2 linked regions of the Homo sapiens genome follow. The protein of the gene in region 1 interacts with the protein of each later gene in a biochemical or structural test. Each region holds a gene or a part of one and is shown on either strand. Other genes may lie near its edges.

What was found.
Region 2: the proteins of ITGB3 (region 1) and FGG interact in a test that uses a peptide from one of them, tested with the Homo sapiens proteins (one study listed by BioGRID).

What each region holds. Positions count from the first base shown.
Region 1 is NC_000017.11:47,305,826-47,312,865, reverse strand, and holds part of ITGB3 (integrin beta-3 precursor), read right to left. Parts: intron 5,396-7,040; coding exon 5,229-5,395; intron 2,728-5,228; coding exon 2,662-2,727; 3' UTR 1-2,661. UniProt on the Homo sapiens protein: Integrin alpha-V/beta-3 (ITGAV:ITGB3) is a receptor for cytotactin, fibronectin, laminin, matrix metalloproteinase-2, osteopontin, osteomodulin, prothrombin, thrombospondin, vitronectin and von Willebrand factor.
Region 2 is NC_000004.12:154,603,652-154,609,677, reverse strand, and holds the end of FGG (fibrinogen gamma chain isoform gamma-B precursor), read left to right. Parts: coding exon 1-48; intron 49-1,027; coding exon 1,028-1,212; intron 1,213-2,695; coding exon 2,696-2,973; intron 2,974-4,611; coding exon 4,612-4,844; 3' UTR 4,845-5,323; coding exon of another isoform or gene 5,324-5,338; 3' UTR 5,339-5,507; downstream 5,508-6,026. UniProt on the Homo sapiens protein: Together with fibrinogen alpha (FGA) and fibrinogen beta (FGB), polymerizes to form an insoluble fibrin matrix. Has a major function in hemostasis as one of the primary components of blood clots.

The DNA.
Region 1 (7,040 bases):
ATAAATTTTCTCCAAAAGAGCTAGACACAATCCCTTTGTGCCGTGTTATCTGATGCCAGAACACTGTTTAGCTGTTCACCCCACAGGCCAAAACTGCTATTTGCTACCTCATGAATGCAGCTACAGGTTATCCCCACATATTGACAAATAATATTGGTCTTCAAGACCTGTGAACTTCATTCCAGTAGCTCAGACAAGATTCCTGATTTGATTCACCTGTTAAATACATTTTCTTCCCCCTTTGATACAGTTTCTTCATATAAAACATCTTATCTAAAGAAAATGTCCCATTAACACTCTCATGGACTCTGTCTTAGTAACTGAAGATTATAATCACAGGCGTGAGCCACCACACCTGTCTTAGTAGCTGAAGGTTATAATTACAGGCATGAGCTTCCACACCTGTTCCCTGCCACTATTTCTAAGGACTTCTTGGATCCATGACTATCCCTCCCCGCCCCCTATTTATCCCTCTACCATACTGCCATTCCCTACAGTAAGGAGTAATCCATGGGTGAGACAGGGCTCAGTCATTGCCCCATATCTAATTCCAAGGCTTATTCTCAATGTTAACACAATAATACAGAATAGATATTTCAGCTACTTATGGATTCCTCTTCCCTAATATGTGGATGCAAATGTGTGCAAAGTGAAGAAAGAAATAATAACTAAATGAAGCTTAAGTGCTACATCAGGAGAGACGTAACTATTAACAAATGTTGGAAAACGGGTTTGGAGAGAGGATAGAATGAGACTTTCATTGAGAAAGGTGATATGGAATGACATCTGCTCTTGCCAAAGCCAGGTCTCTCAGATCTCCCAACTAAAAACACAAACAGTATCAATATCCCAGAGAATCTTAACCGCACATTTGATGACACAGTAAGTCCCAGCATCTTAGAATGTTGATACTGAAAGAGACCTTCAAGACTGGCTGCTAAAATCCCATCATTTCTCAAACTAGAAAACAGCTTTAAGAAGAAGAAAGTGACTTGCCTTAATTAAAGATTATTTAGCTGTAACACTGAGGCCAGAGCTCCAGTTTTCTGCTCATGGAACAAATGTTGATAAGTCTTTCTTTTTTTCTTGGGCATTTGGGGGTGGCTTTTAATGTTGGATGTATGTCAACACCAATGGAGCCACTGCTTTTCTGGGACAAAAGAACAGTCCCTCTTCCTCAGGAAAGGTCCAATGTGTCCACACATCTATCCCCATAGCCTTCTATCATGAGAGAGCCCCTCACAGATCCAGCCACTGGCCAGTGACTTGCTGTGAATGATGCCAAGTGGGAGTGTCTGTACCCTGCCCAAGTCTGTGTGGTTTCCTATGCTCTCCTTCTTTGCCATCACATAAATTTACAAATATAATGCAAGCATGTTTATATACATGTTCTTTTAAGTTAAGAAAACCTCATCATGAGAAAAATAAAATAAAATTGCACTGTGGCCTCTCAGATTAAAGACTGAGTTAAAATGAGGTTGTCCAACCCATAGAAGAACAGGCCACACGTGCTGATACAACTGACCCATCATTCCATCCTGGCACTTATTCCCAGCCAACTCATGGGAATAATTCCTTCACAAGGCAGCCAAGAGGTAGAAGGTAAATACAATCAGCCCCATGGATGGATACAGCACACCAAGGCACAGGGCCAGGTATGTGGAGGTGCTATGGATGAGGGACAGGAGGCCGGAAGCATAGGGCCAGACCTCTGGCTCTACAATAGCACTCTCTCCCTTTGAGGAAAAGCATTTGGTCATGAGAGACATCCCCAGCTCATAGCAAATGTCTACAGCAGTGAGGGTGTGGAATTAGGAGGTAAAGAGATGGTGCTGGCCTAAGGGTGACACACTTCTTCTAAACAAACCTCCAGAGTAGAGCTGCCAATAAGGCAAATCTGAAGGGTTGTGATTATGAACTGGGAGATGCTGGTACATCCCCCAGGCCATGAATGACCCCTGAGTGGCCCAGACATCCTCACTCCCAACAGGTCAAAGAATTAGCTTGCAAGGACTTCCCTTGCGAGAGAACCATAGCTGGGTTGAGGGGATGGCAAAAGGCACAGGCAGCTCTAATAGTTCAGCTCTCCCTGACTCCTCCTTCGGCCTGAGGGAGGGGAAAGGAGGCAGAGGTACAGATGACCCGGGCTGCCAAGCCCAGCAGTTCCTACCATAGCTGCTGAGAGTCAGGCCTGAGAACCATAAATTTATGAACTCAGGGTAGAGCCAAGGCTTGGTGTCCCTTCCTCTGGAATGAGAGGCCTCAGCCCTGCCCTTCTCTTCAGGGACAATGGCCTGATGAGGAAAGCTGGCTTCTCACTGAGGTAATGAAGAACACCTGCTCAGCTCCATAGTCACCCTCAAGCTAAGCAGGAAGAATCCCTGCAGGAGGCATTCTGGGACAAAGGCTAAGGAGCTCAGCTTATCAGGACACATCACAATTTTAAATTACACACTCCCACACACAACACACACACATAAACACACAGACCCCCACATACACACACACAGACCCACACTTCCACATACTGACATTCTCCCAACCTACCCCACTCTGAGCCCCAAATCCCTCCCCACAAATACTGTCCTCTGTAAACATGATGGCAGGGACTCCTGCAATCGTGGCACAGGCTGATAATGATCTGAGGATGACTGCTTATCATTAAGTGCCCCGGTACGTGATATTGGTGAAGGTAGACGTGGCCTCTTTATACAGTGGGTTGTTGGCCTGTGGAGGAAACAGAATAGCATCTTACAGTGACTTCCTTAAGTCCTTCCCTACCCTGAATGTTTAAAATTCATCTCAGAAGTTTTCCCAAGGCACCGTTCTCTGGAATACATCATCAATGAAACAGAATAATGTTCATTTTGCTCACACTTTAGTTCTTGGCATGGGAATTGATAGGAAATAACAGGAGGAGATGAGGTAGAATGCCATCCTGCCACCGTTTCTTTTTTTTTTTTTTTTTTTCAGACAGGGTCTCATTTTGTTGCCCAGGCTGGAGTGCAGTGGCACAATCTCGGCTTACTGAAACCTCCACCTCCCCTGACTCAAGACATCCTCCCACCTCAGCCTCCCAAGTAGCTGGGACTACAGGCACACACCACCATGTCTGGCTAATTTTTGCATTTTTTTGTAGAGATGGGGTTTCTTCATGTTGCCCAGGCTGGTCTCAAACTCCTGAGCTCAAGCGATCCACCTGCCTCAGCCTCCCAAAGTGCTGGAATTACAGGCATGAGCCACCACACCTGTTCCCTGCCACTATTTCTAAGGAGCTATATTCAGCCTATCACTCTTCAGTGATTCCACAGCATTCGGGGATAGAACCTCTCCTATTTCACCCCTGTGTCCCCGTCTCTTTTGCCCTTCTCCTATTTTCCATTCCCTGTGACAGTGATAGGAGATGTGGACAAGGGACAGAAATGTATCAGGTGCAATTCAGAACACAGAGGAAAGCTTTTGCTCAAATAATTATTAATTTGTTTTCATCTAATCTGGCCAAGCACTAACCATGGCCAGGCATGGTGGTTTATGCCTATAATCCCAGCACTTTTAGGGGCCAAGGTAGGAAGATCACTTGAGCCCAGGAGTTCTAGACCAGCCTGGGTAACAGAGTGAGACCCTGTCTCTACAAGGGAAAAAAATACAAAAATTAGCTGGCTCGGTGATGTGTGCCTGTAGTCCTGGCTACTTGGGAGGGTGAGGTGGGAGGATCACTTGAGCCCAGGAGATGGAGGCTGCATTGAGCCATGATGGCACCACTGCACTCCAGCATGGGTGACAGAGCGAGACCCTGTCTCAAAAAAAGAAGGAAGGAGGGAAGGGAAGGGAAAGAAAAGGAGAGGAGGGGAGGAAGGGAAGGGGAGGGGAGGAAGCGTAAAAGGAAGGGGAGGGGAGGAGAGGGGAGGGGAGGGGAGGGAATGGGAGAGGAGGGGAGAGAAAGAGAAAGCACTATCCACAAACTGTCATGTTATCAGGAAAAAGTAAGACCCTCACTAGGTTTCCCAAACTATTTTCCAACAGAAAGTAACAAATCCTATAATGGTAGCTTCAAGAAACACATTCTTAGCCAGGCGCAGTGGCTCACGCCTGGAATCCTAGCACTTTGGGAGGCCGAGGCGGGTGATCACGAGGTCAGGAGTTCGAGACCAGCCTGGCCAACATGGTGAAACCCCGTCGCTACTAAAAATACAAAAAATAGCTGGGCACAGTGGCTGGCGCCTGTAATCCAGTTACTTGGGAGGCTGAGGCAGGAGAATCACTTGAACCTGAGAGGCCAAGGTTGCAGTGAGCCAAGATCGCTACACTCAAGCCTGGGTGACAGAGCAAGACTCTGTCTCCAAAAAAAAAGAGAAAGAAACACATTCCTGTGGGCCTCATAGGTACAGGATGTTCCACACTGTTCTAACAGAAACATCTCAGTTTCTTGGGACCCTTGAGTATAAAGCTCTGGGGTCAACATCAAATGGGAACAAACTTGCAGCCTAACTCTGGACATTTGGGGAGTCAAATAGCCATTTGGAGGGTCGAGGAAAAAAGTTGAAATGTGAAAGAAGAGCCAAAAGAGAATAGAGTAAGATTAAGTATATAGAAAGTTCTCAGTAAATGCTTATTTAATTGGAATAAATCAGGATAAAAGAGTAGAGTCTGATTTGGAAGTAACCTTTTATTTTATTTTATTATTATTATTATTATTATTATTATTTTTGAGACCGAGTCCTGCTCTGTCACCCAGAGCAGGGTGCAATCTCAGCTCACTACAACCTCTACCTACTGGGTTCAAGCAATCCTCCTGCTTCAGCCTCCCGAATAGCTGGGATTACAGGCATGCACCACCACACCCGGCTAATTTTTATATTATTAATAGAGACGGGGTTTCACCATGTTGCCCAGGCTGGTCTCGAACTCTTGAGCTCAAGTGATCTGCCCACCTTGGCCTCTCAAAGTGCTGGGATTACAGGCACGCGCCACCAGGCCCAGCCTGGAAGTAACCATTTATTTGAGGAGAAAGAAGAGAATGAGATGGAATGACATCCTGCCACTATTTCTAAGAGGCTGAAGGAAGCTGAAGGACAAGGGGATAGTGAGACCATCTCTCCCAGTTTCCAGAACAGAGGATAATGGAAAGACGATGGTACTGGCTGAACATGACCACCCAAAGCATCTGCTGCTTCCACTTAAGAGTCTCAGACCAATGACTTTAGAAAACGCCCAGCCCCGTCTCTTACTGTGTCCCATTTTGCTCTGGCGCGTTCTTCCTCAAATTTAGCGAATTCTTTTCGGTCGTGGATGGTGATGAGGAGTTTCCAGATGAGCAGGGCGGCAAGGCCAATGAGCAGAATGGCCCCCATCACTGAGAGCAGGACCACCAGGATGTCAGGGCCCTTGGGACACTCTGTGAGGAAGAAGCACAGAGCAGGGCGGTTGTGAATGAAGCAGGAGTCACTTGAACTGGCTATGAAAAAGGTGTTCTTGACAAAGTAACTAAGGTCCTTGAAGGAAATAGGACAGTTTTCAAAAATTAATTTTTTTAAGGAGACAATCATTAGGACAGCAATAATCTGCACTGAGTGGCTCAAATCAGAAGTCTAGACCTGGTAACCCCTAGACAGAACCCAGCCACACCTTTGTGTGGGGGTTCACCCAAGTGTTTATTTTAAAAATTAAACACAAAGAAGAGAACACCAGACACTGGGACCTACTTGAGGGTGGAGACGGGGAGGAGGTGGGGATCGAAAAACTACCTATGAGTCACTATGCTTATTACCTGGGTGATGAAATAATAGGTACACCAGACCCCCATGACTCACAGTTTATCTACGGAACAAACCCACACATGTACCCCTAAAGCAAAAATAAAAGTTTTTTAAAAAATTAAAAATAAAAAGCCGAGTGTGGTGGCTCACACCTGTAATCCCAGCACTTTGGGAGGCCAAGGTGGGCAGAGCACCTGAGGTCAGGAGTTTGAGACCAGCCTGGCCAACATGGTGAAACCCCATCTCTACTAAAACTACAAAAATTAGCCTAGCATGGTGGCGAGCACCTGTAATCCCAGCTACTTGGGAGGCTGAAGCACAGAATCACTTGAACCTGGGAGGTAGAGGTTGCAGTGAACCGAGATCACACCATTACACTCCAGCCTGGGTAACAGAGCAAAACTCCATCTCAAAATAAATAAATAAATAAATAAATGAATAAGAAATAAAAAATTGACTTTATTGGCAATATTGAATAATCAGGAGATTCTCCCCCTAAAATTTCATATTAGTCTCTTTAAAAAGAAAATCCAGGCCAGGCCCAGTGGCTCATGCCTATAATGCCAGCACTTGGGAGGCCGAGGCAGGAGGACAGCTTGAGTCCAGAAGTTCAAGACCAGCCTGGGCAACATAGTGAGGCTCTGCCTCTACAAAATTGTCTTTTTTAATTAGCCAGGCATTGTGGCATATGCCTGTAGTCCCAGCTACTCAGGATGCTGAGGTGGGAGGATCGTTTGAGCCTGGGAGGTCAAGGTCATAGTGAGCCATGATCGTGCCACTGCTCTCCAGCCTGGATGACAGAGGGAGAGACTATCTCAAAAGAAAGAAAGAGAGAAATACAGAAAGAGAGAGATTCTTATATTCCTGCAGAGCAGCAGTTAGCTAGAGCTGAGGAGGAGCTGCTCCTTTTAGTTGGAACTCATGTTTTCTAGTTTACCAGAATCCCCACCACTCTCCCTTCTCTCTCCTAGAGGAAGGCAGTGTGACTTGTTGGTGTGTCTGCGCTCCTGTGGATGTTACAGCCAGACTCCCTGGGTTTGAATCCTGACTTATCACTTAACTTTTATACATGATCTTTGGAAAATTACTTAACCTTTCTGAATGTCTGTTTCCTGTTTCTCCATCTTTAAAATGAAGATAGTAATAGCACTGACTTTAAAAGAAACTTGTTATGAGGAATGATTAAATTAAATATATCTTAAAAACTCAGAACAATGCCTGGCACAGAGTAAGTGCTCAGTAAATATCAGCTACCGTTGTAACGGATCTTCTTACACCCAGCTG
Region 2 (6,026 bases), on another chromosome or scaffold:
TACTGTGAAATCGATGGGTCTGGAAATGGATGGACTGTGTTTCAGAAGGTAATTTTTTCCCCACCATGTGTATTTAATAAATTCCTACATTGTTTCTGCCATATGGCAGATACTTTTCTAAGCACCTTGTGAACCGTAGCTCATTTAATCCTTGCAATAGCCCTAAGAGGAAGGTACTTCTGTTACTCCTATTTACAGAAAAGGAAACTGAGGCACACAAGGTTAAATAACTTGCCCAAGACCACATAACTAATAAGCAACAGAGTCAGCATTTGAACCTAGGCAGTATAGTTTCAGAGTTTGTGACTTGACTCTATATTGTACTGGCACTGACTTTGTAGATTCATGGTGGCACATAATCATAGTACCACAGTGACAAATAAAAAGAAGGAAACTCTTTTGTCAGGTAGGTCAAGACCTGAGGTTTCCCATCACAAGATGAGGAAGCCCAACACCACCCCCCACCACCCCACCACCATCACCACCCTTTCACACACCAGAGGATACACTTGGGCTGCTCCAAGACAAGGAACCTGTGTTGCATCTGCCACTTGCTGATACCCACTAGGAATCTTGGCTCCTTTACTTTCTGTTTACCTCCCACCACTGTTATAACTGTTTCTACAGGGGGCGCTCAGAGGGAATGAATGGTGGAAGCATTAGTTGCCAGACACCGATTGAGCAATGGGTTCCATCATAAGTGTAAGAATCAGTAATATCCAGCTAGAGTTCTGAAGTCGTCTAGGTGTCTTTTTAATATTACCACTCATTTAGAATTTATGATGTGCCAGAAACCCTCTTAAGTATTTCTCTTATATTCTCTCTCATGATCCTTGCAGCAACCCTAAGAAGTAACCATCATTTTTCCTATTTGATACATGAGGAAACTGAGGTAGCTTGGCCAAGATCACTTAGTTGGGAGTTGATAGAACCAGTGCTCTGTATTTTTGACAAAATGTTGACAGCATTCTCTTTACATGCATTGATAGTCTATTTTCTCCTTTTGCTCTTGCAAATGTGTAATTAGAGACTTGATGGCAGTGTAGATTTCAAGAAAAACTGGATTCAATATAAAGAAGGATTTGGACATCTGTCTCCTACTGGCACAACAGAATTTTGGCTGGGAAATGAGAAGATTCATTTGATAAGCACACAGTCTGCCATCCCATATGCATTAAGAGTGGAACTGGAAGACTGGAATGGCAGAACCAGGTACTGTTTTGAAATGACTTCCAACTTTTTATTGTAAAGATTGCCTGGAATGTGCACTTTCCAACTATCAATAGACAATGGCAAATGCAGCCTGACAAATGCAAACAGCACATCCAGCCACCATTTTCTCCAGGAGTCTGTTTGGTTCTTGGGCAATCCAAAAAGGTAAATTCTATTCAGGATGAATCTAAGTGTATTGGTACAATCTAATTACCCTGGAACCATTCAGAGTAATAGCTAATTACTGAACTTTTAATCAGTCCCAGGAATTGAGCATAAAATTATAATTTTATCTAGTCTAAATTACTATTTCATGAAGCAGGTATTATTATTAATCCCATTTTATAGATTAACTTGCTCAAAGTCACATTGCTGATAAGTGGTAGAGGTAGAATTCAGACTCAAGTAGTTTAACTTTAGAGCCTGTCCTCTTAACAACTATCCTGGTTGAAAAGCAAATACAGCCTCTTCAGACTTCTCAGTGCCTTGATGGCCATTTATTCTGTCAAATCATGAGCTACCCTAAAAGTAAACCAGCTAGCTCTTTTGATGATCTAGAGGCTTCTTTTTGCTTGAGATATTTGAAGGTTTTAAGCATTGTTACCTAATTAAAATGCAGAAAAATATCCAACCCTCTTGTTATGTATAAGGAATAGTGAAATATATTGTCTTCAAACACATGGACTTTTTTTTATTGCTTGGTTGGTTTTTAATCCAGAAAGTGCTATAGTCAGTAGACCTTCTTCTAGGAAAGGACCTTCCATTTCCCAGCCACTGGAGATTAGAAAATAAGCTAAATATTTTCTGGAAATTTCTGTTCATTCATTAAGGCCCATCCTTTCCCCCACTCTATAGAAGTGTTGTCCACTTGCACAATTTTTTCCAGGAAAGAATCTCTCTAACTCCTTCAGCTCACATGCTTTGGACCACACAGGGAAGACTTTGATTGTGTAATGCCCTCAGAAGCTCTCCTTCTTGCCACTACCACACTGATTTGAGGAAGAAAATCCCTTTAGCACCTAACCCTTCAGGTGCTATGAGTGGCTAATGGAACTGTACCTCCTTCAAGTTTTGTGCAATAATTAAGGGTCACTCACTGTCAGATACTTTCTGTGATCTATGATAATGTGTGTGCAACACATAACATTTCAATAAAAGTAGAAAATATGAAATTAGAGTCATCTACACATCTGGATTTGATCTTAGAATGAAACAAGCAAAAAAGCATCCAAGTGAGTGCAATTATTAGTTTTCAGAGATGCTTCAAAGGCTTCTAGGCCCATCCCGGGAAGTGTTAATGAGCTGTGGACTGGTTCACATATCTATTGCCTCTTGCCAGATTTGCAAAAAACTTCACTCAATGAGCAAATTTCAGCCTTAAGAAACAAAGTCAAAAATTCCAAGGAAGCATCCTACGAAAGAGGGAACTTCTGAGATCCCTGAGGAGGGTCAGCATGTGATGGTTGTATTTCCTTCTTCTCAGTACTGCAGACTATGCCATGTTCAAGGTGGGACCTGAAGCTGACAAGTACCGCCTAACATATGCCTACTTCGCTGGTGGGGATGCTGGAGATGCCTTTGATGGCTTTGATTTTGGCGATGATCCTAGTGACAAGTTTTTCACATCCCATAATGGCATGCAGTTCAGTACCTGGGACAATGACAATGATAAGTTTGAAGGCAACTGTGCTGAACAGGATGGATCTGGTTGGTGGATGAACAAGTGTCACGCTGGCCATCTCAATGGAGTTTATTACCAAGGTATGTTTTCCTTTCTTAGATTCCAAGTTAATGTATAGTGTATACTATTTTCATAAAAAATAATAAATAGATATGAAGAAATGAAGAATAATTTATAAAGATAGTAGGGATTTTATCATGTTCTTTATTTCAACTAAGTTCTTTGAAACTGGAAGTGGATAATACCAAGTTCATGCCTAAAATTAGCCCTTCTAAAGAAATCCACCTGCTGCAAAATATCCAGTAGTTTGGCATTATATGTGAAACTATCACCATCATAGCTGGCACTGTGGGTTGTGGGATCTCCTTTAGACATACAACATAAATGATCTGGATGGATTAACATTACTACATGGATGCTTGTTGACACATTAACCTGGCTTCCCATGAGCTTTGTGTCAGATACACGCAGTGAACAGGTGTTTGGAGGAACAGAATAAAGAGAAGGCAAGCACTGGTAAGGGCAGGGGTTTGTGAAAGCTTGAGAGAAGAGACCAGTCTGAGGACAGTAGACACTTATTTTAGGATGGGGGTTGGATGAGGAGGCTATAGTTTGCTATAAGCTTGGAATGGTTTGGAACACTGGTTTCACTCACCTACCCAGCAGTTATGTGTGGGGAAGCCTTACCGATGCTAAAGGATCCATGTTACAATAATGGCATTATTTGGAAATCCCAGTGGTATTCCATGAATAAAACCACTATGAAGATAATCCCACTCAACAGACTCTCCGTTGGAGAAGGACAGCAACACCACCCTGGGAAAGCCAAACAGTCAGACCAGACCTGTTTAGCATCAGTAGGACTTCCCTACCATATCTGCTGGGTAGATGAGTGAAACCAGTGTTCCAAACCACTCCGGGCTTGTAGCAAACCATAGTCTCCTCATCTACCAAGATGAGCAACCTTACCTCCTGATGTCCTAGCCAATCACCAACTAGGAAACTTTGCACAGTTTATTTAAAGTAACAGTTTGATTTTCACAATATTTTTAAATTGGAGAAACATAACTTATCTTTGCACTCACAAACCACATAATGAGAAGAAACTCTAAGGGAAAATGCTTGATCTGTGTGACCCGGGGCGCCATGCCAGAGCTGTAGTTCATGCCAGTGTTGTGCTCTGACAAGCCTTTTACAGAATTACATGAGATCTGCTTCCCTAGGACAAGGAGAAGGCAAATCAACAGAGGCTGCACTTTAAAATGGAGACATAAAATAACATGCCAGAACCATTTCCTAAAGCTCCTCAATCAACCAACAAAATTGTGCTTTCAAATAACCTGAGTTGACCTCATCAGGAATTTTGTGGCTCCTTCTCTTCTAACCTGCCTGAAGAAAGATGGTCCACAGCAGCTGAGTCCGGGATGGATAAGCTTAGGGACAGAGGCCAATTAGGGAACTTTGGGTTTCTAGCCCTACTAGTAGTGAATAAATTTAAAGTGTGGATGTGACTATGAGTCACAGCACAGATGTTGTTTAATAATATGTTTATTTTATAAATTGATATTTTAGGAATCTTTGGAGATATTTTCAGTTAGCAGATAATACTATAAATTTTATGTAACTGGCAATGCACTTCGTAATAGACAGCTCTTCATAGACTTGCAGAGGTAAAAAGATTCCAGAATAATGATATGTACATCTACGACTTGTTTTAGGTGGCACTTACTCAAAAGCATCTACTCCTAATGGTTATGATAATGGCATTATTTGGGCCACTTGGAAAACCCGGTGGTATTCCATGAAGAAAACCACTATGAAGATAATCCCATTCAACAGACTCACAATTGGAGAAGGACAGCAACACCACCTGGGGGGAGCCAAACAGGTCAGACCAGAGCACCCTGCGGAAACAGAATATGACTCACTTTACCCTGAGGATGATTTGTAGAAAATTAACTGCTAACTTCTATTGACCCACAAAGTTTCAGAAATTCTCTGAAAGTTTCTTCCTTTTTTCTCTTACTATATTTATTGATTTCAAGTCTTCTATTAAGGACATTTAGCCTTCAATGGAAATTAAAACTCATTTAGGACTGTATTTCCAAATTACTGATATCAGAGTTATTTAAAAATTGTTTATTTGAGGAGATAACATTTCAACTTTGTTCCTAAATATATAATAATAAAATGATTGACTTTATTTGCATTTTTATGACCACTTGTCATTTATTTTGTCTTCGTAAATTATTTTCATTATATCAAATATTTTAGTATGTACTTAATAAAATAGGAGAACATTTTAGAGTTTCAAATTCCCAGGTATTTTCCTTGTTTATTACCCCTAAATCATTCCTATTTAATTCTTCTTTTTAAATGGAGAAAATTATGTCTTTTTAATATGGTTTTTGTTTTGTTATATATTCACAGGCTGGAGACGTTTAAAAGACCGTTTCAAAAGAGATTTACTTTTTTAAAGGACTTTATCTGAACAGAGAGATATAATATTTTTCCTATTGGACAATGGACTTGCAAAGCTTCACTTCATTTTAAGAGCAAAAGACCCCATGTTGAAAACTCCATAACAGTTTTATGCTGATGATAATTTATCTACATGCATTTCAATAAACCTTTTGTTTCCTAAGACTAGATACATGGTACCTTTATTGACCATTAAAAACCACCACTTTTTGCCAATTTACCAATTACAATTGGGCAACCATCAGTAGTAATTGAGTCCTCATTTTATGCTAAATGTTATGCCTAACTCTTTGGGAGTTACAAAGGAAATAGCAATTATGGCTTTTGCCCTCTAGGAGATACAGGACAAATACAGGAAAATACAGCAACCCAAACTGACAATACTCTATACAAGAACATAATCACTAAGCAGGAGTCACAGCCACACAACCAAGATGCATAGTATCCAAAGTGCAGCTGGAGACAGGAAAGCTGCTTGGGGAGTCTCCCAGCAGAACCTTTTAGCTCCAAACACCTGTGGTGGGACCTGGTCACTCTGAAAGGACTGCAACTCAGAGCAGAGAGCTTTAGGGAGCTATTTGCCCTATCTCTCACTAGTCATGAGGTGAGCTGAATGGAACCATCTCTTCCTTCTGATTCAGGGATATTGACT